Linked DNA regions of Homo sapiens. Each later gene encodes a partner of the first gene's protein in a complex. Each region holds a gene or a part of one and is shown in the gene's direction. Other genes may lie near its edges. The genes, in order: RAB3GAP1 and RAB3GAP2.

Region 1 (16,242 bases):
GACCATCCTGGCTAACACAGTGAAACCCCGTCTCTACTAAAAATACAAAAAATTAGCCAGGCGTGGTTGTGGGTGCCTGTAGTCCCAGCTACTTGGGAGGCTGAGGCAGGAGAATGGCGTGAACCTGGGAGGTGGAGCTTGCAGTGAGCCGAGATTGCGCCACTGCACTCCAGCCTGGGCGACAGAGCGAGACTCTGTCTCAAAAAAAAAAAAATAAAATAAATAAAAAATAATAGTAATAATGACGGAAAGAATACCATTAATATGTAGCAGAAACTGAAATATCTTTATCCTACATGATTTCCTAATCTTCTAGAAACATGTCTTTAGCGTTTCTTCTTAATTTTATTAATGGATTTAGATTCTAGTAGTGTAGCAGTTGGGGAAAGATTACTACATACTTAGAGTAAGTTCTTGTTACTTACATAACTTAATGACAAATGGATACTGTGTCTCATTGAGGCATATAGTAAGTACTATTAGGTACAGTTATTTTTTTCTTTCCTTCTAGATGGAATTCTAAGGAAAAGCTTTTTAAATATCCTGGGACATGGAGAGAAAGAAAAGAACAAGGCTACCTTTGATATAGGATTAATTTTTGTTTTTTTCAATGGAAAAACTGAATGGTTTTACTTTCTACCATATCTTAGTTAATAGCTTTTGTGGAAAGATGTACTTTAATTTATAGGACTGATTTTTTTTTTTTTCAGTTAAGTGTCAAAAATAACTTTTTTTCCTACATAGGTGATTTTGTCACTGAATTTTTTAAAATTTGCCGTCGAAAGGAGTCAACTGATGAGATTCTTGGACGATCTGCATTTGAGGAAGAAGGCAAAGGTAACCTACATTTTTTTTTAACATTACTTTCAAATGTCTTACTGTTTTTCCTTGGCACATTTTTCAGCAACTTTTCATCTGTTTTCTCATTTTGAATTAAGTTGGATAATCAAGTTTTGATGGACTAGACAGCTACAGTTCCTTTCCAGGCTGTACCCAGTGCTTGTTAAGACATTAAAGGCATTTAATAAGTTCTTTCCACCAAAAATGTAAAATATTTTGAAAAGCAGAGTTTTAGAGGTTAAATTTTGAAGTCTCCTAGGGAGAAATAATTTGTGTGACACCATTGTCACTCATGCTTGCACATAAAGCTGAACATGTATATTAATATTTTATAATTCCAAGACCATGTAACACTAGTAAAAAGAATGAGTAAAATATTCTATATAATCATCAATTTGTTCATCACTTTCACCTGCTGAGGTTGGTGATATAATTTATATTTATTTCTGTTCTTTTTATAGAAACTGCTGATATAACTCATGCTTTGTCAAAATTGACAGAGCCGGCATCAGTTCCAATTCATAAATTATCAGTTTCAAATATGGTACACACTGCAAAGAAGAAAATCCGAAAACACAGAGGTGTAGAGGAGTCACCGCTAAATAATGATGTTCTTAATACTATTCTCCTGGTAACTAAATGTTCTGTCTTTATAGGTCTATATGCAGAATCATTTATTCATTATATAGCCAGTTCCTTTTATGTGGTAGGCAGTGACCTTGGAATATACAATGAGTAAAACAGTTACCACATTTAGAAAATTCCTACTAGTTTAGTGGTGAGAAGGAAAGTAAATAGTAGTTGTGATACCATGTTGCATGTGAGAAATCTGGCAAGGGGGCTGTGAGAGCACAGCAGGGGTGCATTTGTCTCTGTCTGGGCAGTGGGAATCAGGGAAGGCTTCATGAAGAGGGACATTTGAGCTGAATCTTGATGAAAAGAAGGCTTTAGAAGCAGAGGAATAGCAGAGGTTCGAGAGCATGTTGAACGGTTGATATTTTGTAGGGTGCTTCCCAGACCATGACCAGGGTTGAGGCTGGAGAAGTAGCAGGTAACCTGCCATGCTGAAGCACTGGCTTTTATCTTGCAGTTTAAGTAGAAGATCAACATGATTAGAATTTTTTTATTTTTTATTTTATTTATTTATTTTTTTTGAGACGAAGTCTCGCTCTGTCACCCAGACTGGAGTGCAGTGGTGCATCTCGGCTCACTGCAACCTCCACCTCCTGGGTTCAAGCAATTCTCCTGCCTCAGCCTCCCTAGTAGCTGGGACTACAGTCACGTGCCACCATGCCTGGCTAATTTTTTTGTATTTTTTTTTAGTAGAGATAGGGTTTCACCGTGTTAGCCAGGATGGTCTCGATCTCCTGACCTCGTAATCCGCCCGCCTCGGCCTCCCAAACTGCTGGGATTACAGGCGTGAGCCACCGCACCTGGCCCCGGAAGTATATTTTTGAAGGATTGCTTTGACAACAGTTGAGAGAAAGCTTTTAGTGAGAATGAGAGGGAGATGAATAGAGAGCTAAGGTGGCTCCTAGGTATAACAGAGTGGAATGGCCCCAGCCTGGGGGCCATCCACACCATGGTTTAATGTCTGCATGACTTACTGCATGACTTTGAATAAGTCACTTCAGTTTCCTCATCTAGAAAATATGGCTAACAAAACCTTGCGAGATTGTTGTGAGGATTAAAGGATCTTCTGTGACACTGCCTGGCATATATGGGTCTTTGATAAATGATAGCTATTCTTAACTGTAATTGTGGTTAAAATCATACTCCCGGAAATTTGTGCATTAAGACAATCTTGGGAAAAACCTTCAAGAAAAGTGTTGAAAAGAAAACTGGAAACTTAATGTTAATCTTATCCCCTGCCATTTATCTGAACAAAACTCTTAGCCAACTTTTTAGCTTGTACATCGTAAGATGTAGGTAGTGATACTTAGCTCAAACAGTTGTATGAGAATAGGATAATGCTGGTAATTGTGCCTTATGGCACTTGGCACATAGTAGTTCATCTAATTTTTAAAAGTCTATTGGACATGTTCTATAATGTGTGGCAAAGTATACATAGTAAGAGGGATTACTAATCAGCAGTACCACAAAACAATTGAGAGGAACAGTGATAAAAGGACTGTAAATAAATGTCTATAGAGAGCCTCCTTCTTAAGACTGTATTCTTAAAAGAATGTTATTCAAATCATGTAGCTCAGTTGTCATGTACACTGGATTTTTTTTTGACCACTCGTACATGTACATATAAACAGAAACCACATGGAAAAGGTACATTGGTTATTATAGGTTTAGACTGCTTCCTACTTTCCAGGGGTATCATAAAATAAAGCTGTGGGTCTTGAATATCATCTCTTAGTAGTCTATATATGAAAGCCTGTGGATGATGTAACTCTTCAGATCCTCATGAGTACATGAGTGTTTTTAAATTGTCTTTTGTGGTTTTGTTTTTTAGATAGTAGTAACACTAAAAAAATGTAATGGCCTTGGGTGAGCATGAAGTCACAGTGATGAGATTTTGCTTTTGCACCTTTCAGCTTACAGAATCAAGTGATTACTTTTAAGAAAAAAATTCTAATTTCTAAAATTGGCTAGTCACTGAAACCTTGTATATTTTCAAAGAAAAATAGAAAAAATTTGAGAGTGTAGAACAAACTGGCCAATACAACTGGAACATTTCTATTGTTAGAGCAGCAAAACCATTAAAAAGTTAAATAATGTCTATATGAGTTATAAAAATCAACAAAATAGGAAATGTGGTCTAAAATGTGATTATTTTTTTCCTTTCCTTCAAGTTCTTATTCCCTGATGCTGTTTCTGAGAAACCATTAGATGGAACTACTTCAACAGATAATAATAATCCTCCATCAGAGAGTGAAGACTATGTAAGTTGATGTGGAGTTCAATGTTAAAATGTTTTAAATGCACTGAATTTCTAGAGGTTCTATATATTTCTAGTTTAATAGCTTACTATATTTTTATTTTAAAAATCACCTTGGGAATTTTGGATGGCAGATCGTGGTTTCCACTTAGATAACTAGCACAGATACATATTTTGGGTAGCAAGAATTTTTCTGGAAACAATGAAAAAATAGCACAAATATACTCTACACAGCTGTAGGATTTCCCTCATTGTAGAGTTTTGGTGAAATCATTAAATTTGTGTTTCTCAGCAGATTCTTTTTGATATTTTAAAACTAGTTAGTGAATGGACAACTCTTTAATGAAGTAAAATGTGTAAAATTAGGTAAAATTTTCATGGTCTCTTTGTCTAGTCTTTGAAAAATTAAGAAGTTGAAGAATTTAAATGACAAGTGTAGATATATATCAACCTTTACAGTAGTTATTGTTGAGAAGTAGATTTGATGAGGTGAGAGAAAAAAGCAAAGGCTTTTTACATTTTCAGTTTAGATAGTTATGATTTTTGTTTTTTCAGACGTGCTCATTTTTGTAATTAAAAGATTTTTAAAACAACACATGAAATTTGGAATACTTCCTAAATATTCCACAGAAGAAATTGAAAGCTGTAACTTTAGCTTCATTAAACTATAGCTTTATCTTTTTTAATCTTAGTAGAAATCTTGAAAATGTGGGACTTCCTAAGAATAGTTTATGCAGTAGTGTATTAGACATTTGATAATGCCTAGTTTAGGTGGGATAGGTTAATTTTACAATTAAAATCTCTCCCTACGACCTTTTCAGTTATATGTGTAAAATATTTTGGTAACAAGTTTGCTTTGTTTCTATTTTGTTAAATTTAGAATCTCTACAATCAGTTCAAGTCTGCACCATCTGACAGTTTAACATACAAACTGGCTTTGTGTCTCTGTATGATCAATTTTTACCATGGAGGGTTGAAAGGAGTGGCACACCTCTGGCAGGAATTTGTTCTTGAAATGCGTTTCCGATGGGAAAACAACTTTCTGATTCCAGGGTAATAATTTCAATTTTCAATTGTTTGGATACGATTTTGTTTGTTAGCAGACATTTGACTTTTGACCTATTTTTTCCCCCTTCTAGGAAGTCTGCCCTAAGAAAGTGGCAAGAAGCTTAGACATGATTTATGTTCAGAGGTGTTCACTGCAGCAAATTTATTAATATAATAGAAAAAAAGGCAAAACCTAAATATCAAACATAAAAGAATAGTTAAATAAATTATACTGTATCTCTACAATAGAAAATTAGATTGATTACAGTTTTTCCCCCAATAATCTTTAATAACAGATGTTCATATTGTTTCTAATAAAGTAGAATATTTTAATGCATATACAAAGTACTTTTAATTATGTTGCTATATTTGTACAGGAAAAATATTATAAATACTGTGAAATGCTATCAGTTTTTCCCAGTGTGAAATTATACTTTTATTTTGTTCTTTATACTTTTATGCATTTTCAAAGTCTTTTGTAATAAACCTGTTTTTTGTAATTGACATTTTACTTAATCAAACAGAACATTTTCATTAGCACATAGGTTGATATTGCATAGTTTAGTGCTCATCTACCCATGCTATGATAGGAGAATCATGATTTTGAGCAATATAAAATGATTACTGATCCAAAAACATTTATATCATTTGCCAATCTCTGCTTAGCTGGATTCTCTCTTGGTTTTAGACAGTCCGCTCTGGAACATTTTACAGACCCAGAAGCATGTTGAATATGAGGGAGTGCCTCTGGCTGATTGCTGGGAACCTAGTAGTCTAGAGGAACCTAGAACTAGAGACAGTCCAAGGTCCTATTGAAATACAGGTGGAGATCTTGGTTTTTATAGTGAGAATCCACTGTAAGAATTTAGTACTGAATACACAAACTGATTTATTTTGTATGGTGTGAAATACTGTATGCTAGTACTTCCTGGAGTGGGTTCAGGGGCTTTTTCTCATTTTGAGTTTTTGTTAGCCTGAAAACTATCACTAATTTGCTGTTATGTTTTGAAATATCTATTATATTTGCTATTGGTGATTTGTGGACAAGGAGTATAAAATAAATTTTCATCTTTTAATTCTATGTGCTCCCCCTCTGGAATTCACTTACCTTACCTGTGGAAATCTAGTTTTGATTTCTTATCAATATAGCTAAAAATTATGGTAGTATAGAAAATAATCATATCTGAAGCAATTTTACTAAAACTAAGCTTTCTTTTCTCCTTACTTTATTTGATAGATTAGCAAGTGGACCCCCAGATCTGAGGTGTTGTTTACTGCATCAGAAACTACAGGTAAAGATTTCTCAATGACATGGATAAATGTGGTCTTGATTTAATCAGATTATTCTAATACTAAATGTAATAATGGGTTACATGCTGTTCTCATGGTGCTGCTGTAGGTTGCCTATAGTCAGTAGTCACTGCAATTCACAAGGTCCTGAGAAGTGGAGAGTGAAAATTAAATATTCAAGCAGTAGGTAGATTTTTATTTTTCTGTAACTAATTCAACTATAAATGTTATTTCTCTTTTCTTAAGATGTTAAATTGTTGTATTGAAAGAAAGAAGGCACGTGATGAGGGGAAAAAGACAAGTGCTTCAGATGTCACTAATATATATCCAGGGGATGCTGGAAAAGCAGGAGACCAGTTGGTGCCAGATAATCTAAAAGAAACAGATAAGGAAAAGGGAGAGGTAGGAAAATCTTGGGATTCCTGGAGTGACAGCGAAGAAGAATTTTTTGAATGCCTAAGTGATACTGAAGAACTTAAAGGAAATGGACAAGAGAGTGGCAAGAAAGGAGGACCTAAGGAGATGGCAAATTTAAGGCCGGAAGGACGGCTCTATCAGCATGGGAAACTTACACTGCTGCATAATGGAGAACCTCTCTACATTCCAGTAACCCAGGTAGGATGCACTAGTTCTTTCCATTTTAATTTATTTTGTGGTTTATATAACTTCATCCTAGTAGAAGATAGTGCTTTGAGTAAGGAAAATTATCCAAAAAGTCTATGTTTAGGCCAGATGCGGTGGCTTACGCCTGTAATCCCAGCACTTTGGGAGGCTGAGGTGGGCAGATCACCTGAGGTCAGGAGTTCAAGATAAGTCTGGCCAACATGGTGAAACCCTGTCTCTACTAAAAGTACAAAAATTAGCTGGGCACAGTGGCGCACACCTGTAGTTCCAGCTACTGGGGAGGCTGAGGCAGGAGAATCATTTGAACCCAGCAGTGGGAGGTTGCAGTGAGCCGAGATTGCACCACTGCACTCCAGCCTGGGCAACAGAGCAAGACTCTTGTCTCAAAAGAAAAAAAAAGTGTTTATGTTTAAAGATAAAGATATAGACTGTTTAAAGAAACTAAAGGTAAGGATTTCCCAATGACATAGATAAATGTGGTCTTGATTTAATCAAGGACCTTTAAAAGATTGGACAAAGTCTATGTTTAAAGATTAAAGAAATCTAAATAAACTTTTGGGGCTTTTAGGTTTGCCATTTCTGTAATTGAGAAATGTTTTGAAGTTTAAGTAGATCACGTCATCATATATAAGGTGATTTATAAACTGAGCAGTGAATGCTCAGATGTTTAAAAAAGAAAATCCAACTGCACTTATGTATGTTTTTGTTTAACTTGTGGACAAAGACTTATGGATAGGTGCAAAAAATAAATCCTCTTTTGCAACCCAGAACTCATTGTTCAGTATGAGTTTTGATACATATAAGAAGGGATATTATGATACCTGAGACAGTTAACTGATGGGAATATTGATAGCCATAAAGGTTGGTCCCAGACCAGGCACAATGGCTCAAGCCTGCAAGCCCCACACCAAGGTGGGAGTATTGCTTGAAGCCAGGAGTTCAAGACCAGCCTGTATAAGAAAGTAACAAACACCTCATCTCCACAAAAATTTAAAAATTAGCTGAGTATTGGGGCATGTGTCTGTAGTTGCAGCTACTCAGGAAGAGGAGGCTGAGGCAAGAGTATTGAGCCCAGGAGTTGGAGGCTGCACTGAGCTTTGATGACACCACTGTACTCCAGCCTGGGTAACAAAGACAGACCCTGTCTCTTAATTAAAAAAGATTGATTCTAGGACTGTGGAAGAGATAGTTAAACAGCATGGGATATGAAGGAAATCCTCAGCAGTATTAATTTTGCATTCCAATTTCATGTTGACTTGATACCTACGATGGCTTTTTGTTTTAAAGGCTTTTATCTTGAGAACATGATGTCTGTAGTTAAAGGTATTGGCGTATTCCACACATCTGTACTATTCTTGAGTATGATCGCTTAGGGTGTCAAATTGAGAACCAGGCAGATCCACCACCTACAGTAAAAAGGACCCTAAAGTAAATTGGTTGAAGAAGTTAGATCCCAAAGATTCTTGGTGAATTTTGAAGTCTTCATCAGTATATCCATATTAAAAGGAGATGACAGAAGCCAAAATAAAAGAATTATGGGCTAACAGGACAGCTGGATTAAAATAAGCATCAGTTTCATTAAAAAGGGCTAACTTGAAGATAAATCTTTTGACTCCAGCTCTTTAGAGGATCTGAAGTGACCTTGATGGACAGTGGAAGAAATCACAACATGGAATTACTTGAACAAAAATTTATTGACTTAAAGAAAAAGAAAAAATCCAAAAATATATAGAGAGAACAAAAGTAAATATCCTTCAATTATATGATTAGCTTTTATCTGTTCAAAAATAGTTTGAAGTCATATACACCATTAGGATGTAGAACAGCAATAACTCAACAACAACAGCAGCAATAGTTGTTTTTAAGGGTTTTGTTTTGTTTTTTTTTTGTTGTTTTTTTTTTGACACAGAGTCTCTCTTTGTCACCCAGGTGGGAGTGCAGTGGCATGACTGTAGCTTACTGCAGCCTTGACCTCCTGGGATCAAGTGATCCTCCCACCGCAGCTTCTCAAGTAGCTGGAACTACAGGTGCATGCCACCATGCCTGGCTAATTTTTCGTGGTTTTTATAGAGGTGGGGTTTTGCCCTGTTGTCCAGGCTTGTCTTAAATTCCTGAACTCAAGCCATCTGCCTGCCTCAGCCTCCCAAAGTGCTAGGATTACAGACATGATCCACTGCACCCGGCCTGAAAACATTCTATTGTGAAAATTGTAATCTAGTAAAAATGAAAGAGGCTCAACGCCTGTAATCCCAACACTTTGGGAGGCCGAGGTGGGGTTGGATTGCTTGAGCCCAGGAATTCAAGACCAGCCTGGGCAACATGGTAAACCCTATTTCTACCAAAAAAAAAAAAAAAAAAATTAGCCGACTGGGGTAGCGTACACCTGTAGTCCCAGCTACTCGGGAGGCTGAGGTAGAAGAATCAATTGAGCCCGGGAGGTTAAGGCTGCAGTGAGCTATGATTGTGTCACTGTTCTCCAGCCTGGGCAACAGAGCAAGACCCTGTCTCAAAAAAATAAAAAGTGAAAGCCACCATCCACTAATTTTGACTTGCATTCCTTGAAGTAACTAACAAGTATTATTGGTTTGGGTTATATTTCTTATAACTGTTTCTCTGCATTGATGTATAATACATATATGTGTGTACATATTAATACATGGTTTTATGGATTTTTTTTTTTTTTTGGAGACAGGATCTCATTCTGTTGCATAGGCTGGAATGCAGTGGCATGATCATGGCTCACTGCAGCCTTGACTTGCTGGGCTCAAGTGATCCTCTGACCTTAGCCTCCTAGGTAGCTGGGACTACAAGTGCTCACCACCATGCCAGGCTGATTTTTTCACTTTTAAAATTTTTGTAAAGATGGAGTCTTGCTATGTTGCCCAAGCTGGTCCTAAACTCCTGACCTCAAGCAATCCTCTGTTTCGGCCTCCCAAAGTGCTGGGATTATAGGCATGAGCCACTGTGCCCAGCCTCAATTTCTTATAAACAATTGGTATTACCAACCATATAAATTTTTGTTAACATGATGGTCAAAAGTAGTATCTCAGTGTTTTAGATTGTATTTTTCTGAATTTTCATGAACCTGAGCATCTTTTAATATGTTCGTTAGCCGTCCTTTCCTGTGAATCGCCTATGATTTTTCTTTTAGGTTGCTCCCCTGTTCTTATTGATTCATATGAATTCTTCATATTTTAGATGTGAATCTACAGTTATATATATTGTATATGTTTTCTGCTAGTCATTTTAAAAACATATGTTCATGTATTTACTTAATTATTGAGTTATAACTTAATACAATAAAGTGTACAGATCTTGGCTGGGCATGGTAGCTCATGCCTGTAATCCCAGCACTTTGGGAGGCCAAGGTGGGCAGATTGCTTAAGCTCAAAAGTTCAAGACCAGCCTGAGGAACATGACAAAACCCCGTCTCTACAAAAAATACAGAAATTAGCCGAGCGTGGTGGTGTATGGCTGTAGACCCAGCTACTTGGGAGGCTCAGGTGGGAGGATGGCTTGGGTCCGGGAGGCAGAGGTTGCAGTGAACTATGATTGCACCATTGCACTCCAGCCTGGGCAACAGAGCAAGACCCTGTCTCAAAAATTAAAAAAAAAAAAAATAAAAAGTGCACAAATCTTTAGTATACTGCTTGGTGAATTTTTTCATATTGATACATGCATATAACTACTTCCCAGATCAAGATACAGAAAATTCCCATCATCCTAGAACAGTGCTGATAAATAAAACTTTCTGTGAAGATGGAAATTCTCTACATTCTCTGTCTTTCCCATTCAATACAATAGCCATTATCCAAATGTAACTACTGAGTGCTTGAAATGTGGCTAATGTTTCTAAGGAATTAAATTTTTAATTTTAATTTATTTAAATTAAATAGCCAGATGTATTGGATAGTGAAGCCCAGGATTCCCCTCCAGCAACTCTTTCTCTTAACTTTTGTCACCATAGGTTAGCTTTGTCAGTTTTTGAACCTTTTAAATGGCATGCTTTGCTTACTCTTTTGTATATAAATGTAATCATACATTGTGTACTCTTTCGTTGTATAATCATACATTATATACCATTGAGCTTTTTTATTTACCGATTTTGAGAGTCATCCTTGTTGTTGCAGGCTTCAGTGTTTGTGCATGTGTTATTAGTATTCTATTCTATGAATTTGTCACAATTTGTTTATCCATTCACCCGTTGATGGGTATTTGGGTTGTTTTCACTTTGGGCTAATATGAATAAAGCTGCTGTGAACATTCTTGTTTCTTTTGGTAGACAAAGGCACTCATTTTCTTTTGGATATATTCCTAAGAGTAGAGTTATTGGGCTATATGGTGCAAATATGTTTTGGCTTTAGTAGATCTATCTAAATAGTCTGTCTAAGTGGTTGAACTAGTTAACCTTCTCACCAACAATTTATAGTAGTATAGTTATTCTACAGAATCCTCCCCATTTGATGTGTTCTCAAGACCACTCCCAGGTTTAGTGATTTTCTAGGAAGACTCATAAGACTTAGCCCATAATCATGCTCGTGGCTATAATTTATTACAAGAAGATCAGCAAAGAGAAAAGGCACATGGGATGAAGTTTGAAAGAGATGAGGTTTAAGCTTCCAAAAAGCTTCCCCTACTGTAGTTACACAGAGTGCACTTAATTCCTGTTGCAACAAATTGTGACCACATGTGTGAAATGTTGTCTTCCCTGGGAAGCTTGTTAGAGGCACAGCAGTGGGAGTTATCAGTAGGGGCTGGTCAAGTAGGCATCCTTTGCTTAGGCATAGGGTTAACCATACCAAAATCTAGACTCCCATAAAGAAAGTAGGTGTTTAGCATAAACCATATTATTTGCACAAAGTGTTTAGGCATAGTGAGTCATTTTTATCAGTTCTGGGAATGGTGGGAACCTTCTCAAAATCCAGGTTCTCAGCTGCCAGCCAAGGGCCAACTTTCAAGCAGGCCTTTCTAAGAATGGCAGTCTCAGACCTGCAATATTAACTCTTTTCTGCACACTTGATATTTTTGGTCATTTTAATTTTTGCCTTTCTGAAGGGTAGGAGGTAGGATCTTGTGGTTTTACATTTTCCTGAAGCATATATATATTTATTGCCCATTTGTCTATCTTCTTGGTGAAAAGCCTGTTCAAGGCCTTTGCCTATTTTTTTCTTAAAGCAGTTGTCTTTTTTTTTCTTATTACTTTATAGGAATTCTTCATATATTCTGGATATGAGTCCTTAGATACTTGTATTGCAAATATTTTGTTGCTTATCTATTCACTTACTTCTTTTTTTTTTTTTTTTGAGACAGTCTCACTCTGTCATCCAGGCTGGAGTGCAGTGGTGTGGTCTCGGCTCACTGCAGCCTGAGTCTTCCGGGTTCAAGCGATTCTCCTGCCTCAGCCTCCCGAGTAGCTGGGACTACAGGAGTGTGCCACCATACCTGGCTAATTTTTTGTATTTTTAGTAGAGATGGGGTTTCACTATGTTGGCCAGGCTGGTCTCGAACTCCTGACCTCGTGATCTGCCTGTCTGGGCCTCCCAAAGTGCTGGGATTATAGGTGTGAGCCACCGCGCCTGGCCTGTTCACTTTCTTAATGATGCCTTGGGTTGAAGAGGTGTTCTTAATTTTAATACAGTCTCATCTATCCTTGTTTTTCTTATGTGGTTAGTGCTTTTTGTGTTCTGCTTAAGAACTCTTTACCAAGTACTGAAGATATTTTCTTTTCTTTTGGAAGCTTTATTGTTTTACCTATATCATTTGTTTGTGACCCACCTCAAATTAATTGTTTGGTAAGAGGAACAGGTTAAGATTCTCTTTTCTCTATAGGGAGATTGAATTGTTCCACCACCACTGTTGAAAAGATCTGCCTTTTCCCATTGAGTGGCAGTGATATCTTTGATGTAAATCAAGCAACTGTATGTGTTTTGGTCTATTTCTGGACTATTTATTCTGTTCCGTTGGTCTCTGTCGTGTGCCAGTAATGTACTGTCATCATTATTGTAGCTTTATAATAAGTCTATCTGGTAGTGTAAATCTTCTAACTTTGTTACTCTTCAACATTATCTTAGCTATTCTAGGTCCTTTGCATTGTTATATCAATTTGAGAATCAGCTTGTTAATTTTTATAAACAAACACATATTCAAAATCTTGCTGGGATTTTAATTCAGATTGCATTGAATTTGTAGATCAATTTATGGAGAATTGACATCTTAATATTGAGTCCATTAAATATCTTCAATTTTATTTAAAGTTTCTGTTCATTTATCTCATTAGTGTTTTAGTTTTCAATGTAGAGGTCTTACATATCTTTCATTAGATATATTTCCAAGGTATTTGTAATTTCTTAAATGGTTTTATAAATGGTATTTTAAAAGTTCATTTTCCAATTTTTTTCCCTTGATAGATATAAACAGTTGATTTTTATATATTGACCTTGGATATAACAATCTTGCTACATTGACTTATTAGTAGTTTAGAGATTATTTGGAGTTTTCTACATACACAATCATGTCGTCTTTTAGTAAAGATGATTTGAATTCTGATTTTGCAATCTTTATGCTTTTGAATTACTTTTCTTATCTTATTGCAGTGGCTAGGACCTCCAGTACAGTGTTGAATACTGGACATTATTCTCTTGTTCCCAACCTCAGAAAGAAAGCATATGATAGTCATTGAAGGCACCTGATGTAGATATCACTTATCATATTAAGGAAGTTCCATTCCTAGTTTGCTTAGAGTTTTGTTTTTTGTTTTTTTTTTAATCATGAACAGGTATTGCATTTTATCAAATGTTTTCCTGTATATTAAGGTAATCCTATTTTATTCTCCCTTATTCCATTAATGTGGTTAATTGCATTGATTGATTTTTGAGTATTAAAACATCCTTACATTCCTGGTATATATCCCACTTGGGCTTTCCCTTTTTATACAGCTGGAGTTTATTTTTTTTTTTTTTAGGATTTTTATATTCATATGTCAGAGGTATTGACCTTTATTATGTTGTCCTTGTCAGGGAAGTGTCCCCTCTTTTTCTCTTCTCTGGACAAATTTGTATAAATAAGATTTTACTTCTTCTTCAAATGTTGAACATATTCACCAGTGAAACCACTCAGAATCTGAAGTTTTGTTTGTAGAAATATTTTCAAATATAGACTTACTTTTAAATTAGATTTCTTTAATAGATAAAAAACTATTCTTATTTTTTATTTCTTGTATCAACTTTGGCAAATAGTGTTTTTCAAGTAATTTTTTATTTTTCTAAATTTTATATTTACTGGCATAAATTATTTCATAGTATTCTTTTATAATCTTTTTAGTGATTATAGAATCTATAATGATATTGCAGTTTTAATTTTTAAAATTGGCATTTGGTATATTATCTCTTTTGTTCCTGATCTATAAGAGGGTTTTATTAATTTTATGAATCTTTCCCCTGAAAAAACAACTTTGGGTTTTGTTGATTTTTCTCTGTTGATTTTGTTTTCTATTTCATTGATTTCTTCTATTATTTCTTTGCTTCTACTTTCCTTAGAACTAATCTGCTATTTTTCTAACTTGTTTTATTAGCAGCATAGGTAATTGATATTCAACCTTTCTTCTGTAACATGCTACTTTTTTTTTTTTTTTTTTTGAGACGGAGTCTTGCTCTGTCCCCCAGGCTGGAGTGCAGTGGTGCGATCTCGGCTCACTGCAAGCTCCGCTTCCCAGGTTCATGCCATTGTCCTGCCTCAGCCTCCTGAGTAGCTGGGACTACAGGTGCCCACCACCACGCCTGGCTAATTTTTTGTATTTTTAGTAGAGACGGGGTTTCACCATGTTAGCCAGGATGGTCTCGATCTCCTGACCCGCCCGCCTCGGCCTCCCAAAGTGCTGGGATTACAGGCGTGAGCCACTGTGTCCGGCCCTAACATGTTACATTTTAAGCAGTCTCCTTAATTTGGGACTCAGATGTCATAATTCCTGAATATGTTCTCTTAACTCTTGCCTCTTCACTGTTTGTTCATACATTTTATCTTTTTGCATAGTGACACAGGAATTTTCTTGGCCACTTTGCCCGCTGGGGCCCTCTGTGGCTGGCAATGCTTCTGCCCAGGCCTCACTCAGCCCTGGGCCTGCCGCAGGAGGTGCTCTGTCCGCCAGGCTTGTGCACCAGCTTAGCTCTCAGCTGGGCTGAGCATGCCCTAACTCAAGCGTGCCCTAACCCACTTGTGTTACAGCTTGTACCCACATTCAGTGGGTCCCGAGTTCTTGTCCCACATCCAAGAAGAATGAATTTACGTTGACAATCAAAGGGTAAGGAAGGTGGAGAAGAATTTTATTGAGTGACAGAAACAGCTCTCAGCCAAAAGGGGCTGCGAGGGTGGTCTCCCACCTGAAGTCGGGTGGTTTCTCTCTAAGTATGGCTGGGTCCAGAGCTTTTATGGGCTCAGAATGGGGAGTGCTTGCTGATTGGTTTGCGAGTACGCAAAATGGGCTAAAACAAAGGCACCACTCAAAGGGGGGCATGACAATGTATAAAACCAAGTAGGGAAGGATAGGTGTATGTAAATAGGTGAAGGGTGAGGATTACTCAGAGGAAAGCATGCCAAGTAGGAAGAGAGTTTCTCAATCCAGTCTGTGGATTTACCCAGAACTTGTACCATGGCTTTCAGGCTTTCAACTATCTTTGTTTGAAGGTCAGATTTCACTGAGGACCTGCCTCTTACCTGCCTAGGCATTTGACTTTTTGCTGCCACTGTCAGTAGCATTATGGGAGAATCTTTTGACAACTTTTGTTTATTCCATTTGCCATTTGTGTTTTGTGTTTCCTTGTTTTGGGGGATTTATCACACTTTCATTTCCAAGTCCTAAAAATGATTCTTTTCTTGTAAAGAAAATGGTTCTTGTGTTGTAAATGCGGTATTCTCTCTTGCCTCTGAACTTTCCAGTTTCCTCTTACAGAGTCTTAATTTGCCATTGCACACAAGATGGTTGTACTGACAAATTACTGTTGATGAAATAAAGTTATTATCCTGAACTTTCTTTTAGAAAATGTGCTATTGTAGAGTAACAGTGGTTTATTTGCCATTTGCTAAGTCAATACTAACAGAGTTTTGCTTAATATTTTTGGTATTTATTCTTTAAAATTTGCTTATTGGTACATAATATTTGTACATTTTTATGGGGTACATATGCTATTTTGTTACATGCATAGAAAGCGTAATGATCAAGTCAGGGTGTTTGGAGTATCAATCGCCTTGATAGGTGATTGATAAATCTGTCACTTATTTATCATTTTTATGAGTTAGGAACATTTCAAATTTTTTCTCCTAAGTTATTTTGCAACACACAATACATTGTTGTTAACCATAGTTACCCTACTTTACTATTGAACATTAGAACTTATTCCTTCTATCTGTTTGTATCCATTAGCTAACCTCTCTTCATACCACCCCTCACCAACACACACACACATACACACACACACACACACACACACTTCTTAACCTCTAGTAATTATTCTAATTTTATGTAGTTTTTATTTCGTTTGCTTTAAGCCTACCAAACC
Region 2 (16,242 bases), on another chromosome or scaffold:
ATAGCTGAGATGTCTTTAAATATTGGTGCAATAGTCAGGAGCTCAGGCTTGTTAATGATGCCAGCCCACTAGGGATTTGAGTAAATGAGGAGTTGTAAAGACAGAACAAGCTGCCAACTATACTTGTTATAAGTGGTGAAAATTGCTTCCTAAAATAGTGGAAAGTTGAGTGTTAGATTTGGCAGCTCTTGTTTCTCACTTAAAAAGCATGCTTCTCAGAATTGTCCAAAATATCTTTTTACTTTTATAAAAATGTGTGTGTGTATATGTGTGTGCATATATATATATTTAAAGAGAGAAAGGAGCCAGTTATGTGTAGGTGTGAAATCCATAGTCCAGCTAGAATAATGTAATCTTAATGTCCTAGTTTAAAATTTATTTGAATGAAATTACAATTTAAAGAGAGAAATTCTAATGGTAAAATAGACTAATTGTGATTTTATTTTTAAACTATAGAGTTAAAACTTTTTCTCATATTACGCCTAAAATAAACTTTTTACTGTACTCTGAAAGAAGCTGAGTTGCTAGTCCAGCCTTTACAACTTTTCAAAGCATTTTAAAGTAAGCTTTATTTAGAAAGTATGTTTGTTTCTTTGTAAGCTACTAAGTTTTCTCTTTCAAATGTTCTGTTTTTCAGGGAAGCACACAACCATTATTATCCCATGTTGCACTAGCAGTTGCAAGTAAACTCACTTCTGCTTTATTTAATGCTGCCAGGTAATTACTTAACAATTAAAATAACAAATATCTCATTTGTATCTAGCTTGCTTTTAACTTATATTTTGATAGTTTGCACTTTAAAACCCTGGAAGCTCAGTTTTATATTCTAAGTTTTCTTTCTTTTCAGTGGTTGGCTTGGTTGGAAAAGTAAGCACGAAGAAGAAGCTGTCCAAAAGCAAAAGCCGAAGGTTGAGCCAGCTACCCCATTAGCTGTAAGGCAAGTCTGTCATGCTTCCCAAATTTTAGTCCTTTTAGAAAGGTACTGTTAAATGTATGGTCTTTCCGTGTGCTTGGTTGATTTGCTGATCTTGTCTTTGGAACTTCTGAAAGCCATTACAGTGGAATTTCTTTTCCCACTAGAATGTAAAACTCCATGTGAAGAGTGATTCTTACCTGTTTTGTTCACAGCTTTATCCCTGTTATATACTAGGTATTCAAGATGTATTTCTTGAGTGTGCTTTTTAACAAATAAACTTAGCTTAGTTGTAGGAGAATTAATTCAGTGATAGCTGTTAAATTTCTTTTAAAAGTTTAGATAGTTTGTTACTAAGTTGTATAAACTTTAAAAGTACTTAGTGATTTCTTTTTAAAAAAGTCATCCTAGTGGATTGCGGTGGCTCACGCCTGTAATCCTAGCACTTTGGGAGGCCTAGGTAGGCGGATCACTTGAGGTCAGGAGTTTGACACCAGCCTGCTCAACATGGTGAAACCTTGTCTCTACTAAAAATACAAAAATTAGTCAGGCATGATGGCATGTGCCTGTAATCCCAGCTACTCCGGTGGCTGAGGCAGGAGAATTGCTCAAACCCGGGAGGCAGAGGTTGCAGTGAGCCGATATTGCACTGTTGCACTCCAGAGTGGGGGACAAGAGCGAAAAACTCCATCTCAAAAAAAAAAAGTAAAAGCAGGAGTCCTGTATTCAGGCACTCTTTAAACAGACTCCTGTCCTGTGCTTCCTTGTTTACTTCAGTAGTGCTTTAGAATGTGTTAGTATATTGGTGAGTTTTTTTTGGTGGAGGGAGCATGATTTTTGTTGCTTTTTTTTTTCATTATTATTTTTTAGATAGGAGCATGTTTTCTAATGTTTGGTTTTGTTTTAAAATCATTTTTTATTACCTAATATAAAGTACCACCATGAAGGGAAATAGAACACCTCCTCTTTATGGATGTTCTTCACCTAAGAAGAGCCAACTAATTATTAAAATTTATCGAAGTATAGCTTCTAAGTTTTTTTTCATCTTTTTAAAAAATACATTGTAACATATCACATTTCCTAATATCAAGAGTCAATAAATTAGTCACATGGCCCTGTGCGTCTCTAATAGATGTAACAAAGGTTGGGCACCTTTGTTTCAGGGACTTTTCTCTAAATGAGCTTTCCTAGTTCTCTTTTAGTACTTCTTTACTTTTATTTTACTCACAATTCTAATGAGGTTGATTATAGAACAACAGAAGTTTAGAGATAACTATTTAGAAAAAGGAAGGTTTTTGCTTCAGGCAGATTGGTGTCAGCAGGATGTCATATCTTGCAAAAAAGAGAAAGATTAAGAAGAAGAATTTAAAATAGACAAAAGATGCCTGTGTGGGAGCATATTCTAAAATTTAGTTGATGGTGAGGACATTGTTTTCTGTGACATGCCTTTTAATCAAATATAGTTATACTTTATATTCTCTAAAGGTATAGGGTTGTGGGTATCTATTGAAAACCTACATAGGACTGTGGTTTTATTTCTTTTATGTATTTTATATTACAAATGTCAGTTGTGATTAATAAATTAACTATTAATCCAGGTAAAATTCATATTTCTTTATATAAAAACAGATTCAGCCTATTTCATTTATGCATTTCGTTATTCTGTTATATGTTTCTGAACTGGAATGTGATTTGAGCATTTTATTTTCTTTTAAATATCAGATTTGGACTTCCAGATTCTAGACGCCATGGTGAAAGCATATGTCTGTCTCCATGTAACACACTGGCAGCAGTAACAGATGATTTCGGCAGAGTTATTTTATTGGATGTAGCTAGAGGAATTGCAATACGCATGTGGAAAGGTACTTCTTACAAAAATCCAGAAAAACAATTAATTCACTTTTTACCCCAATAGTTGAGCAATGTTATCATCCTTCAGCTTCTGGATGATAACTCTGTTTAATTCTTCATGTTTACATTTTCTTTTTTTGACATGAACTCAGATCAGCAACCACTTGGTCCAGTAGTCAGTTGATACATCTTTTAGGTTTGATCACCTCATAGCCATGTTTAACCTTTGCCTTTTGCACTTTCTTTCAATTCTCACTGTTATTGTCAATTTCTGAGTTCAGTTTCTTGCCCCTGCTACATTTATTCCCCTTCACAAAGCCATTCTTGAGCCAAATGTTCTCCCCAAATCTATAATGCCAAGTCTTTCAGATTTAAGATAGCAAAACCCATCTTCACTGACTTGACTTTTATATCCATATGCTTGGGTCAATCCACCTGGTGTGTCAATAAGTATGTCACTTAGGAGTTTCCTTCAGCTATTATTAACAGACCTGAGTAACAGACCACAGTATCTTCAGGAACCCAGTCTTCTTCCTTGTAGCTTCCCCACTCAAGGTTCTCATAGACAGCCCTCTTATCTGCATTCCGGGAAGGAAGCAGAAAGGAAGAAGGCTTCTCCTGGCAACTGAGTCAATCTACTTTGAAGATATTCCCCGAAGTCCCTTCAACCATTATCTACATTAGCCAGGACTTAGTGACATGGCCTCATCTAACTATAAGGGAGACTTGAAAATATCTTTTAACTAGGCACATTGTGAATAATATCTCCCTGACTAAGAAAGAAGGGATGATTACATTATTTAGAATCATCTGGAATAGTAACATGTCAGCATAGACCACAATTTATGGTGCAATCTTGTCTATCCTGTAAAATGTGAGGAATAATGAATGGATTGAGGTCATTCAATTACTCTGGACCAGATTGAAGCCACTATCACCTTCTTGCCAAAGAACTCCTGCAGTGATAGACAGAGGCAGTCTTTACCTACTACATGTCTCAGTATCTGTAGAAATAGTTTTAATACTGCAGATACATCATTTCTCCTTGGTGTTTGTCTTCTGAAACAATATCAAAGGTATGTTCTCAGCAAGACTTTTCTAAAATACGAAGACGAAGCTGTACTGACTGCTCCAAATCCACTATGGCAATCTTATTCCTTGCATCATTGCCTGTCTGCAGCTAGTACAGCCAGTTTTTCTTTCCATTGTGTCCTTGGAAAGAAGGATCAATTGCCTATGTGAGGGACCACCCTAAAATGGAAAATAGCATCAGCTACGTCTCCCATGCAAGAGCTTCCTCCCATCGTCCTGTAACCCATATTTTCTATCTGCATGTCACCAAAAGGCTTGTGTGGGAAGGGAAGGGAATGAGAGCAGGAGGGGTAATCAGGTGGCTTCAATTATATCTATAATCTTTTCTCTTTTTTTTTTTTTTAGAGAGTTTCGCTCTTGTTGCCCAGGCTGGAGTTCAATGGTGCGATCTGGGCTCACTGCAACCTCCACCTCCTGGGTTCAACTGATTCTCCTGCCTCAGCCTCCCAAGTAGCTGGGATTACAGGCATGCGCCGCCATGCCTAGCTAATTTTTTGTATTTAGTAGAGACAGGGTCTTACCACGTTGGTCAGGCTGGTCTCGAACTCCTGACCTCAGGTGATCCACCCGCCTCAGCTTCCCAAAGTGCTGGAATTACAGGCATGACCCACTGTGCCCAGCCAATATTTTCTTTTTAAAGAGAAAAAGTGGTCAGAAGTAAATATAGCAAAATAGTAAGATTTGATAAGGCTGGGTGATAGACTGGTTATTATTTATTATCATTTTTTATTTAAGATATTCCATAATAAAAAATATACTTTTATAGCTTTTCTTACCCCACCCCCACCCCCACCCCCACTATTCCAGAGTACTTCAGGAGGCTACTATGGAACCTAGATTAAGTAATTAACTTCCCTTTACCTCTGTCTCTAAGGGTACCGCGACGCACAAATTGGATGGATTCAAACTGTAGAGGACCTCCATGAAAGAGTGCCAGAAAAGGCAGATTTTTCCCCCTTTGGAAATTCTCAGGGTCCAAGTCGAGTAGCTCAATTCCTTGTGATCTATGCGCCAAGAAGGGGAATTTTAGAAGTGTGGAGCACACAGCAGGGACCTAGAGTAGGAGCTTTCAATGTGGGGAAGCACTGCAGGTAAGCTGCAAATGCTGGCATTGTGCTGGTTACAAAATGAAATATAGGAATGCTTTTATTAAAATAAAGCTTTACTAAAGCTGCTTATTAGATTACAAGTTTGAGAATTACAATATTCTTTATTGTGGTTTTTCCTGTGAGTGCCTGGCATGTACTTAAGTATTTAATAACAAAAAAAAAAAATTAAAAATGCCATGATAGACTGCTGAATTAAAGTTAGCTTGTTGCTAATGTTTGTCCCTTACTTATGCTGGGAAGGCTCAAAAGGAAAGGTTCCTTTTGCCCTAGTCATAAGTGAGGTGAATGCTTTGTTTGCCATTGAAACAGGGGCCTGATTGTGTTCATTTAATTTTTTAGAATCTTTCAACAAGGCAGAACTCTGCTGGTTGAGCCCTGCTTTACTTATGTACTTGCTATCAGTATTTAGTTGCCTTATTAATGCTCCTAAATTGATAATAATGTTGGGTTTCCTAGCTATAATAAAAGCACCTTTTGGCATTTCTCCTTGTTCTAATATTTTTACCATATTGGTATGTGATTTCTTTAGGCTGCTGTATCCTGGCTATAAAATAATGGGTTTAAATAATGTTACCAGTCAGAGTTGGCAGCCACAGACTTATCAGATCTGTCTGGTTGATCCAGTGTCTGGAAGTGTGAAAACAGTGAACGTTCCCTTCCATTTAGCACTGAGGTAAGGTGTGTCCAGTGTTGCTGATTGACGCTCCTCTGCTAACTTTTCCTAGTTCCTAGGTTTGTTGTACTCTCTTTTGTAGTTGCTATTTTGTTGTTTCCTTTGTCTTTAGACTGATATCTTTAAAGTTAAATAGGAAATATATAAAGGAAAAAAAAGTTGGAGTGTGTCAGAATTAGAAAGAAAATAATTTCACATTCTGTAATAATTTGTTATATTTATTGGTTTAGTGATAAGAAGAGTGAACGAGCCAAGGATATGCACCTAGTGAAGAAACTAGCAGCCTTACTGAAAACAAAATCTCCCAATCTTGGTAGGTATTCTCTCATACAAATAATAAAGCATATTGTTCTATCATCTTTTAAATCAATAAAATATTCTGAATGGAGCAATCAAAATAATGCATGGATGAGCTTATTGGAATTGCTCTGTAAGGCTGAAGTGTGCCATCTAGAGGGTGTTATAATTCATAACAAGAAAACATTAATGTGAGAGAACCCAAAAATCCTTTAGACTCACTGATAGTACAGATATGTTCATTTTCTTTCAGAATAATGTTTCACTGTTATAAAAATTAAAATTTTACTTTGATTATTTTTTTCTTTATAGATTTGGTTGAAACAGAAATAAAGGAATTAATTCTTGATATTAAATACCCTGCAACCAAAAAACAAGTAAGTGTATATAATACACGAACTTTCCTGCTAGTAGCTATAATACATCCTTCTTAAGAAAATCTTTATTTTCCTATTTCCCCCAAACATGAGAGGCTGAAGTCTTCTTTTCACATTTTTATTGTTTATCCCTTTCTTTATTTTCAGATAGAAGTTCCTGTTGTCTCTTTAAAAAAAAAAAAAAAAATTAATATTCATGCCTGTAACTGTAATCCTAGCACTTTGGGAGGCCGAGGCAGGGGGATCATGAGGTCAGTAGTTCGAGACCAGCCTGGCCAACATGGTGAAACCCCGTCTCTACTAAAAATACAAAAAAATTAGTTGGGTCAGTATTGGCGGGCGCCTGTAATCCCAGCTACTCAGGAGCTGAGGCAGGAGAATCATTTGAACCTGGGAGGCGGAGGTTGCAGTGAGCTGAGATTGCACCATTGTACTCCAGCCTGGGTTGCCATACATCTGAGTGTGTTTTATATACACATACCTACACATCCCTACATTATATATATTATATATATAAAATAGTAAATATGTGTGTATGACCACCTACCTTAGGAAATAAAATCTTACCAGGAACTCTAAAGAGCCCTGAGTGTCCCCCCTCAGTCCCATTCCCTTCTCCCATCCCTAAGGTAACTGTAATTTAGAATTTTGTGGTTCTTTCTTTTTCTTTACTTTATAGTTACGTCATTCCTGTGTGGCTCCTTTGAAACCTGTTGATGCATTTCCTGCCTTTTCAAACTTTATATAAATGCAGTCATGCCCTATGTCTTCTGTGACTTTAGTTTTTCCTTCAGGATTATGTTTCTGTGTCATTCATATTGGTGTATGTAGTTATAGTTATAATTGATTCATTTACTATGCCATACAAATTCTGCTCACTGACTAGAATTTATTTACACTCCTGTCAGTGAACGGTTAGGTTGTTTCCAGATTTTTGACATTACAAATGATGCTATGCTTATCCATGTACATATTTCCTCATTCACATATGCAAGAGTCTCTCTGGCGTTTATACCTAAGAGTGGAATTGCTAGGGTGTGAGCTTCTTCAACTGTACTAGTTGATGGCAAATTGTTTCCCAAAATAGTTGTACTAATTTATATTCCCACCTGTTCTGTATGAGTCCCTGTTACTCCACAGCCTCAATATTCCATGGTATTGCCAGACCTTTACTTTTTGCCAGGCTCGTGGTTATAATATGGTCACCACTGGTGATTTCTTTTACTCCCACTCCTCCTATCCAAACCCCTCATAATGCTATTCAAGTCCTAACTCCACAAATTCTTACATAATGCTTCGATCCCCATGGATAACTCTGAACTCCTACTCTACTTTCAATCAAAACTGGATAGTTAATGACTACTTATTTTCTAATTATTTCATGTATGTTAATCATAGCTTCCCCGACTTTTTTTTCTTTAGGTCTTTTAAGCTCCTTCAAGTAGGAACCTTACCAAATACTTGATTTTTATAATTCACAGCATCTAAAATAATGCTACTGTGAAAATGTAAGAAAAAACTGTATCACAGGTTTTTTCTTTTCTCTTACACAGTCACTCGACACTTCTGCCACTAGATGTAGGGTTTTTTTTTTTTTTCCCACACACCAGTCAATTTCTTTGGCAGATTCTCCAGCTAACACCAGCTGGTTATTCTCTAATTCAGTTCGATTCTGACACCATCTACCTGGAGATAGCATGAGATCATCACGACAGGTTAAGAGCTCAGTCCCACAAGACTTCTACCTACTTCAGGTACCAGTCACAAGTAGTTGGTTGTCAGCTATATTTCTGACTGTCTAGCTATAAATTAGGGTTACTATGACCCCCTCTTTGCGGTTGATGAATTTGCTAGACCAGCTCACAGAACTCAGGGAAACGTTTTACTTGAACGTTTACCCATTTATTATAAAGGATATTACAGAGGGTAGAGATCAACAGCCAAGTGGAAGAGGTGCATAGAGTAAATCATATGGGAAGGGTTGCAGAGCTTCCATTCCCTCTCCTGGCAAGCCACTATTCAGGAACCTCTACACGTTCAGCTATCCAGAAGCTCTTCCAACCCTTGTCCTTTTGGGTGTTGATGGAAGCTTCATTATATAAGCATGATTGATTACATCATTGGCCATTGGTGATCAACTCAGTCTTCCAGCTCCTCTTGGCTCCCCAGAGGTCAGGGGTTGGGCTAAAAGTTTCAATCCTCAAATACATGGTTGGTTCCACTGGTAACCACCCCCTTATTCTGAAGCTCTCCAGGAGCCTGCCATGAGTGGCCTCATTAGAAAAAAAGAAGCTTCTATCACCCAGGAAATTACAGAGGTCTTAGAAGCTCCCCATCAGAAATGGGGGGTCAAAGACCAAATGTTAGAACAAAAGGTTCTCCTAGCACCTCTGTCTACAAAGGGATTAAGAGCTCTGACTGATGAACTAGGACAGAGACCAAACACTAGAACAAAAGAAACTCCTAGCACCCCCATTGTTCAAGAAATTATAGGAACTCTGTGTCAGGTACTGGGGCCATAGACCAATATGTATATTTCTTATTATTTTATAGCTACATACATGGGAGAATTCAGTGAATAGTGATACATGGGAGAATTTAGTGAATAGTGATTTCTGTTGCAGTCCGTTTTTAAAACACTTTATTGAGTTATTGTAGAACAGAAAAGCCTTTGTGACTTTTAATTGTGTCTTCCATTCTACTGACAATGCTAATTGGCTCTCATTTTGCTCAGGGTAAAGTCTCTGTTATTAGAGATGACATGATGATGACAAAGTGGGCATCTAGAGAGGCATATTGAGAAATCTGTAGTAGAAAGGGTCATAACCCACACGGTTCTTCTCATTTTTATGCCATCTTTCTTCTTATCCTAAATCATAGAACAACAAAATTGGGAAACCAGCATAATGCAAAATGTCTTCTTGATTTTCTTTTTTTTAATGGTACTTCTGAATCATGTATGAAGCTGTGAATTTTATAAAGAATGCTAGAAAACCCAGTAACAAAAGTTATAGGTCTTCTAGGACTGACTAAAGGGAAGGAAGAAACCAGTTCAGGCTTTGGGAGACTGTTGAATAATGGGGAAGAAAACAAGCTAGCTGCTAGCCTGGGTAATCATAGGCAGAACTGGAGCAGGTTATGCTTGTCCTGGGTTCTGGCCTCTTACAGTCACTTTCTTTATTGTTTCCTGGTAGTTACTTCATTATAGGCCTGACCAACATCTTGAGCCACCCTCTAAGCCCATTTCTCCTCCACAAACACGCAGAGGTTATTGTGTTATGATCGGATATTTGTCTTATCCCACATTCTCAGCCTACTTTTTGAACTATTTAATCTCATTAATTAAAACCCAACTTAATGTGCTAATATGAAAGGATAAATATGACCTTTAACTTCTGATAGTTGCTACTTTAGGCATGAAGAGATATTTTGGGACTGGTTATGAAGAATCTTAAATATCTATGGGGGTGGGGAGAGGGAGGTAGGGAAGGGTGGGTACTGTATTCATCTAGCAGGGCCTATAGATTCTGCCTGCCATGCACAAATGCAATAATTAAGGTATAACTAAGTTTTTGGCAGCTTTTGTTATTGACATGACAATAACCTCTGCTTTTCGTTTATGCCTATATAGTATAGGCATATTCAAACTCTTCTTATTGGTAAATAGCTTTATCTTTGTTTCTGTTTTGATTTGGCTATTCTGTTAAGTAGCAGTTGCCTTCTAGTTGTTTTATTCTCAGCCTGGATTTTTGTCATTTATGTCATATTTGGCATGACATGAAGTTGATTGTATATTACTTAACAACGCAACTTGAGATTTAATATATGTACACTAAAACATCTTAAATATAGAGCTTCCCTTTGAAATTTGGGGTAGTGAAAGTTTGGGCATAAATATAAGATTTAAAAAACAAAATCACTGCCTTATAATTACTAGAACTGTTCAATATCTTTCTCCTAGGCTTTGGAAAGCATTTTGGCAAGTGAACGTTTACCATTTTCTTGCCTTAGAAACATCACTCAGACTTTAATGGACACTTTAAAAAGTCAAGGTAATAGGGTTTGTACTGATTGGAGGTTATGTTCTTAACTCAAATTTTGTAACTCTGATTATAGAAAGCTATTGACTTTGTGATACCATCATGTTACTTTAATGTGGAAGTAATATAGATATAAGAAATTAAGAATCTTATTTATTCCCTATTTAATATATGTAGTTGATCTTCATCTAAGCTGTCTTTGAATGTATTGACTGTTATTGGGAAGTTGTTTTTAATTGTGAGGAAAGATGTCAGGATAGAATGATAAGTGGTTATTCTGATATAGCTTTGTATTAATGTTCTATCAGTGTATCAGTTTCCCTCGTGAACAGAGTTAAGGACTTCCAGAATCACAATCAACAATCAGATTATTATTTCTGAATTTTCTGGTCATTTTTTGATATTCAAAATTTGTCTGTACTATCACATTGTTCTTTAAAATCCATCAGTCCGTCAAAATGTATTTGTCTGAAAAAGGATTACACTTGAAACTTGAAACTGTGGGGTTGTAACACCATATTCCATCCAACTGAACTAGTAAAAATTCACTTTATTCTGAATTCCTAACATCAGTTAAATTGTGTGCAGTGGACTGATGTCATCTAGTTGTGACTTTTGTTTGTCATATTAATTATGTAAAACCAGCTTTGTGTTTTAGTTGTGTGTAAGACAGCTTAAAGTGGCTTAATACACAAATTATAATTTGTTCTTTCAGGACTTCAAACATGCTAATTTTGAGACTCTTTTTCAACCTTTTTTTTTTAACAGATACATAAAACTGACATTGGCAAATAGTGAACTCCTTTAGCATACACCACTTGTCAGAAATAAATCCCTCTTTTAAAAAGCGTGGTATACTTACAAAGCCCTCCCACCCCTCAAGGCATTCACAACATCCCAAAATTTATTAAATGAAAAGTTATCTTCCACTGGCCTGGTAGTAAACCAAACACCATTGTTGGAATTCCATAAAATCATCAGTTTCAAGTTCTACATAAACATAAGATTCCTAAAAACTTTAATCATTTTGTGTGGTCAGTTTTATTATGGCTATAAGAACTTGAACAATATTCCATGATACTGTATTTCAAATAAGATTTTGAGGGGATTATCAGTGTCTCCCTTTTTAAAGAATAAATATTTCTTTTATATTAGATATAAATATTCATACAGTATATGAATTATGTAGTCAGGGAAAATATTTTCAAAGGTATTTCCAGATAATTTCTTTAAATTTTAAGTATTAGATGAAGATATTTCCGCTTCCTTTTTTATCTCCCTACTTTTAGAGCATCTTATTTTATTTAAAAAGTTAGACATTTTGTCATGACAGAAAAATTATTTTTGCTTTCAAAACCTGGTATAGCTTAAGCATCTCAGTATTTAATACATCAGAGCATCAGGGAATTACATAATATTGAGAGATTTAATGAAAGCAAAGCCTGTTTATGAGTCTGTTAAATATATCTCTTATATATACTTTTCCTTCTGCCTTTTAGAACTTGAGTCTGTTGATGAAGGATTGCTACAGTTTTGTGCCAATAAACTAAAACTGCTGCAACTCTATGAGTCTGTCAGTCAATTAAATTCCCTTGATTTTCATTTAGACACACCATTCTCTGATAATGTGAGTAATCCCACATTTTATATTATATAAAATAATCTCTTTGATTAGTTTTACTTTTTAAAATTAGTAGTAAAGAAGTAGAAAATTAAGAATTTTTTTTAAAGCTTTAAAGGTATATTTTCCTTACCAAGCCCCCTGCTAGCTCTCTGTGCTTTGCTGCTATATTTATATTATTTATACAAGTGCTGAGATTATAGGCATAAGCCACTATGCCCAGCCATGATATGTTTTTGTACATATAGTATATAAAAATAGTTTGAAAGCCTAGCAGGTTGTATCCCTGAGAGCCACATACAGGACTTATATGTAGATACAATGAGAATATTTTTCTATGTTTTTATTTTATAGTGTTTACGCTGCTTTATAATTAAGCATTTAAGTTCAATATTTAGTTTCCTCAGAATAGTAAGAGTTGCGTTTGACACCCTTTTAAATTTTTTTCTGATTATACAGTAATACATGTTTATTAAAATTCTAGCATTTGCCAAGGCATAGTGGCTTGCACCTGTAACCTTAACACTTTGGGAAGCTGAGGTGCGAGGATCACTTGAGCCCAGGAGTTCGAGAGCAGCCTGGGCAACATAGTGGGACCCTGCCTCTACAAAAAAAAAAATTTTTAATTAGCTGGATGTGGTGGTGCACACTTGTGGTCCCGGCTACTCAGGTGGCTGAGGCAGGAGGATTGCTTGAGCCCAAGAAGTCAAGGCTGCAGTGAACCATGATTGTGCCAAGGCACTCTAGCCTGGGTAACAAAGTGAGACCCTGTCTCAAAAAAAAAAAAAAAATGCTAACATTCTAGAAGATAATAAAGTACCCTCAAGAAATATCCTAAAATGGTACTTTTAATACCATTTCTTTTAGTACCTACCTCTAGTACCATGTTTGGTTTGGTACCAAACATGCAGTGTTTCAAAATTATAGTTTACTTTATTTAAATAACTTCCTACTCATGAAACGTGATTTGTAAGTAAAGTTTTAAGCAGAATACATGATAGGTATTATATTAATTAAAAAGTCGACTTTTGCTTACAGCCTTGAATTTCAGTTCAGATAATGTGGGTGATAGATGTGGAATGTTGTTTTGTTTTGTTTTCTGTTTTAAAGGACTTGGCTCTGTTACTAAGGCTTGATGAAAAAGAACTGCTTAAGCTCCAGGCATTACTAGAGAAATATAAGCAAGAGAACACCAGGACAAATGTTCGATTTTCTGATGATAAAGATGGTGTGTTGCCTGTAAAAACATTCTTGGAATATTTAGAATATGAAAAGGATGTGCTCAACATAAAGAAAATAAGTGAAGAGGAATATGTGGCTTTAGGTAGGTAAAATAATACACTGGTCTTTGTATGCCTCTTCTTTTAGAAGAAAACATGGTAGGAACATATAGCATCTCAGAGATTCCATTTGTTTTGAAATTTAAATAATGAAAGGATTTAATGTACTGTATTTTTTGGCCAACAAAAGATACTCTGGTCAACAGGTTGTATTAATGAGTATACTAAAGAGACAATATTGGATCATGATTTGCTTTCTGCTTTAATAAATCAAGCAAATTGAACAATTAATTTCTCTTCCTTCATAATGTTTTGTTTCTCTGGAATTCCAGATTGTGATTCAATAAGATTGTTAGTCCAAATGGTAAGTAGTCATTGATTAATGTGCTTTGTTTTTCTTCTACCAGGTAGTTTCTTTTTTTGGAAGTGTTTGCATGGAGAAAGCTCCACTGAGGATATGTGTCACACTTTGGAGTCGGCTGGTCTTAGCCCTCAGCTGTTGTTGGTAAGGTTTTTTTGGTTGCTGGATGCTGTTCTTCCTTGTGAATGTCACCCAGAAGTGTCAGTCTTCTTTTTTTTTTTAACTATTGTCTTTTAGGATATCACAGAATGTCCATGAAAACTTTCTAAAAATGATCAAAGAAAATTTTAATCACCATATTTAATAGAAGTAATATTATTTATTTTTCTTATACCCTGTAATTTTTTTTTTCTTTTACTTTGAGAGAGAGAGAGAGTCTTGCTCTGTCACCCAGGCTGGAGTATAGTGGTGTGATCATCGCTCACTGTGGCCCCAACCTCCTGGGCTCAAGCCATCCTCCCATCTCAGCCTCCTGAGTAGCTGAGACTACTGGGCAATTTTTTTTTTTACTTTTGTGGAGATGGGGGTCTCGCTATGTTGCCCAGCTTGTCTCAAACTCCTGGCCTGAAGCAATCCTCCCCGCATGACCGCTCAAAGCTTTTGGATTACAGACAAGAACCACCATGCCTGGCCAATTTTCTGTAAATGTTAACAAGCATATCGTATAGTTGGCCTAAAATAAGTTTAGAATCTGTGTGCACCCATCTATATGCGTGCATTTACAGTGGAATTGGATCATCAGTAAAAAACTGTCATGTTACAATGAAAAATATCTTAAAAACAAAATAAGCTTCCCATAAAGCAATGTGGAATTGTTACCAAACATTTTCAGACTTTGAATATATATTATAATGTAATCTCTAATATAACAAATATAAAACAAAAGAATCATCCAAGGAGGAAATACAACACTAAATTTTTACCCTTTCTGAAAAAAACAAGGAAAGTTACCCCATCTTCCTTGTTCTTCTTTGTTATTACCTATCCCCTACACATGCATGCATACACAGTTGTCCCTCAGCACCCATGGAAGATTGGTTCCAGGAACCTCCCCCTCCATTACCAAAACCATGGATACAGAAGGTCCTGATAAAAAATGGTGTAATAAAAAATTAGCCAGGCATGGTGGCATGTCCCTGTATTCCCAGCTACTCAAGAGGCTGAGGCATGAGGATCCCTTGAATCAGGGAGATCAAGGATGTGCTGATTGCACCTCTGCACTCCAGCCTAGGTGATAGAGTGAGACCCTGTCTCTAAAAAGCAAAAAAGTTAAAATGGTGTGGTATTTGCATGTAACCTATGCACATCTCCTGTATACCTTAAATCATATCTAGGTTACTTATAATACTTTCTGCAATGTAAATGTGTAAATTGTTAAAACTGTACCGTTGAGGGAATAATGACAAGAAAAAAGCCTGTACATGTTCAGTATAGATGGAACCGTCCATCTTTTTTTTTCTGAATATTTTTGACTCACAGTTGATTAAATCCACAGATGTGGAATGCATGGATACAGAGGGCCAACTGCATACTCTTTCACACACCCCCATTTACATGTTATATTTTGGCCAGGATTTGGGCATCCTACCTCTGTGAGCTTGTTGATGGTTTAATGTGTTGTTTTTATTATGTATGTGTCTGGTTTTGGTATCTGGGTAATGTTGGCCTCATAGAATGAGTTTGGAAGTATTCCCTCCTCTCCAATGTTGTGAAATAGTTTGAGTATAATTGATATTAGTTCTTCTTTGAATGTTTGAAAGAATTCAGCAGGAAATTCATCAGATCTGGGCTTTTCTGTGATGGGAGACTTTTTATGACTGCTTCCATCTCGTTACCCATTACTGGTTTGTTGAGGTTTTCTGTTTCTCTACTGCTGTTGGCATAAAGCTGTTCATAATAGTCTCTAATGATCCTTTGTATTTCTATGGTATCAATTGTAATGTTTTCTTTTTTGTCTCTGATTTTATTTATTTGAGTCTTTTCTCTTTGCTTCTTAGTCTAACTAAAGGTTTGTTGATTTTGTTTATCTTTTTTAATAAAAACAACTTTTTTTGTTGATCTTGTGTAATTTTTTTATTCTCAATTTCATTTATTTCTGCTTGATCTTTATTACTTCTTTTACTAATTTTTAGGTTGGTTCTTGCTTTTCTAGTTTCTTGAGGTGCATTGTTAGATTGTTTATTTGGAGTCTTTTTATTGAGGTGTTTATTACTATAGACTTCCCTCTTTTCTTTTTTTTTGAGACGTAGTCTCACTCTGTCACCAGGCTGGAGTGCAGTGGTGCGATCTCGGCTCACTGCAACTTCCGCCTCCTGGGTTCAAGCGATTCTCCTGCCTCAGCCTCCTGAGTAGCTGGGACTACAGGCATGCGCCACCACACCCAGCTAATTTTTGTATTTTTAGTAGAGACGGGGTTTCACAATGTTGGCCAGGATGGTCTCGATCTCTTGACCTCGTGATCTGCCTGTCTCGGCCTCCCAAAGTGCTGGGATTACAGGCGTGAGCCACCGCACCCGGCCGACTTCCCTCTTAGCACTCCTTTTGCTGCATCCCATTGTTCTAGTATGTTGTATTTCCATTTTTATTTTTTCAAGAAATTTTTAAATTTTATTTTTAGTTGCTTCCTTG

The links.
Region 2: the proteins of RAB3GAP1 (region 1) and RAB3GAP2 are in contact, whole or in part, in a cryo-EM structure (PDB 8VYB), measured with the Homo sapiens proteins. Residues at the interface, in NP_036365.1 of Homo sapiens: Thr19, Ser21, Trp23, Glu24, Glu142, Ser143, Asn146, Leu147, Leu149, Ser150, Ser153, Ile154, Ile169, His170, Trp173, Arg174, Met176, Arg187, Asp189, Glu191, Met192, Val193, His194, Leu195, Arg196, Pro199, Tyr202, Ile211, Ser214, Lys215; in NP_036546.2 of Homo sapiens: Arg197, His198, Pro199, Gly200, Ser276, Pro277, Phe278, Asp279, Met281, Lys282, Ser285, Asn286, Ile287, Gly289, Phe290, Asn291, Ala292, Ile294, Arg377, Phe378, Gly379, Leu380, Pro381, Asp382, Arg385, Cys395, Thr397, Leu398, Arg407, Arg415.

What each region holds. Positions count from the first base shown.
Region 1 is NC_000002.12:135,129,251-135,145,492, forward strand, and holds part of RAB3GAP1 (rab3 GTPase-activating protein catalytic subunit), read left to right. Parts: intron 1-744; coding exon 745-837; intron 838-1,301; coding exon 1,302-1,471; intron 1,472-3,644; coding exon 3,645-3,734; intron 3,735-4,610; coding exon 4,611-4,783; intron 4,784-6,014; coding exon 6,015-6,069; intron 6,070-6,313; coding exon 6,314-6,682; intron 6,683-7,377; exon of another isoform or gene 7,378-7,505; intron 7,506-16,242. UniProt on the Homo sapiens protein: Catalytic subunit of the Rab3 GTPase-activating (Rab3GAP) complex composed of RAB3GAP1 and RAB3GAP2, which has GTPase-activating protein (GAP) activity towards various Rab3 subfamily members (RAB3A, RAB3B, RAB3C and RAB3D), RAB5A and RAB43, and guanine nucleotide exchange factor (GEF) activity towards RAB18.
Region 2 is NC_000001.11:220,179,773-220,196,014, reverse strand, and holds part of RAB3GAP2 (rab3 GTPase-activating protein non-catalytic subunit), read left to right. Parts: intron 1-637; coding exon 638-717; intron 718-847; coding exon 848-937; intron 938-2,635; coding exon 2,636-2,775; intron 2,776-4,730; coding exon 4,731-4,947; intron 4,948-5,494; coding exon 5,495-5,638; intron 5,639-5,868; coding exon 5,869-5,951; intron 5,952-6,247; coding exon 6,248-6,312; intron 6,313-10,273; coding exon 10,274-10,364; intron 10,365-11,851; coding exon 11,852-11,979; intron 11,980-13,083; coding exon 13,084-13,297; intron 13,298-13,660; coding exon 13,661-13,758; intron 13,759-16,242. UniProt on the Homo sapiens protein: Regulatory subunit of the Rab3 GTPase-activating (Rab3GAP) complex composed of RAB3GAP1 and RAB3GAP2, which has GTPase-activating protein (GAP) activity towards various Rab3 subfamily members (RAB3A, RAB3B, RAB3C and RAB3D), RAB5A and RAB43, and guanine nucleotide exchange factor (GEF) activity towards RAB18.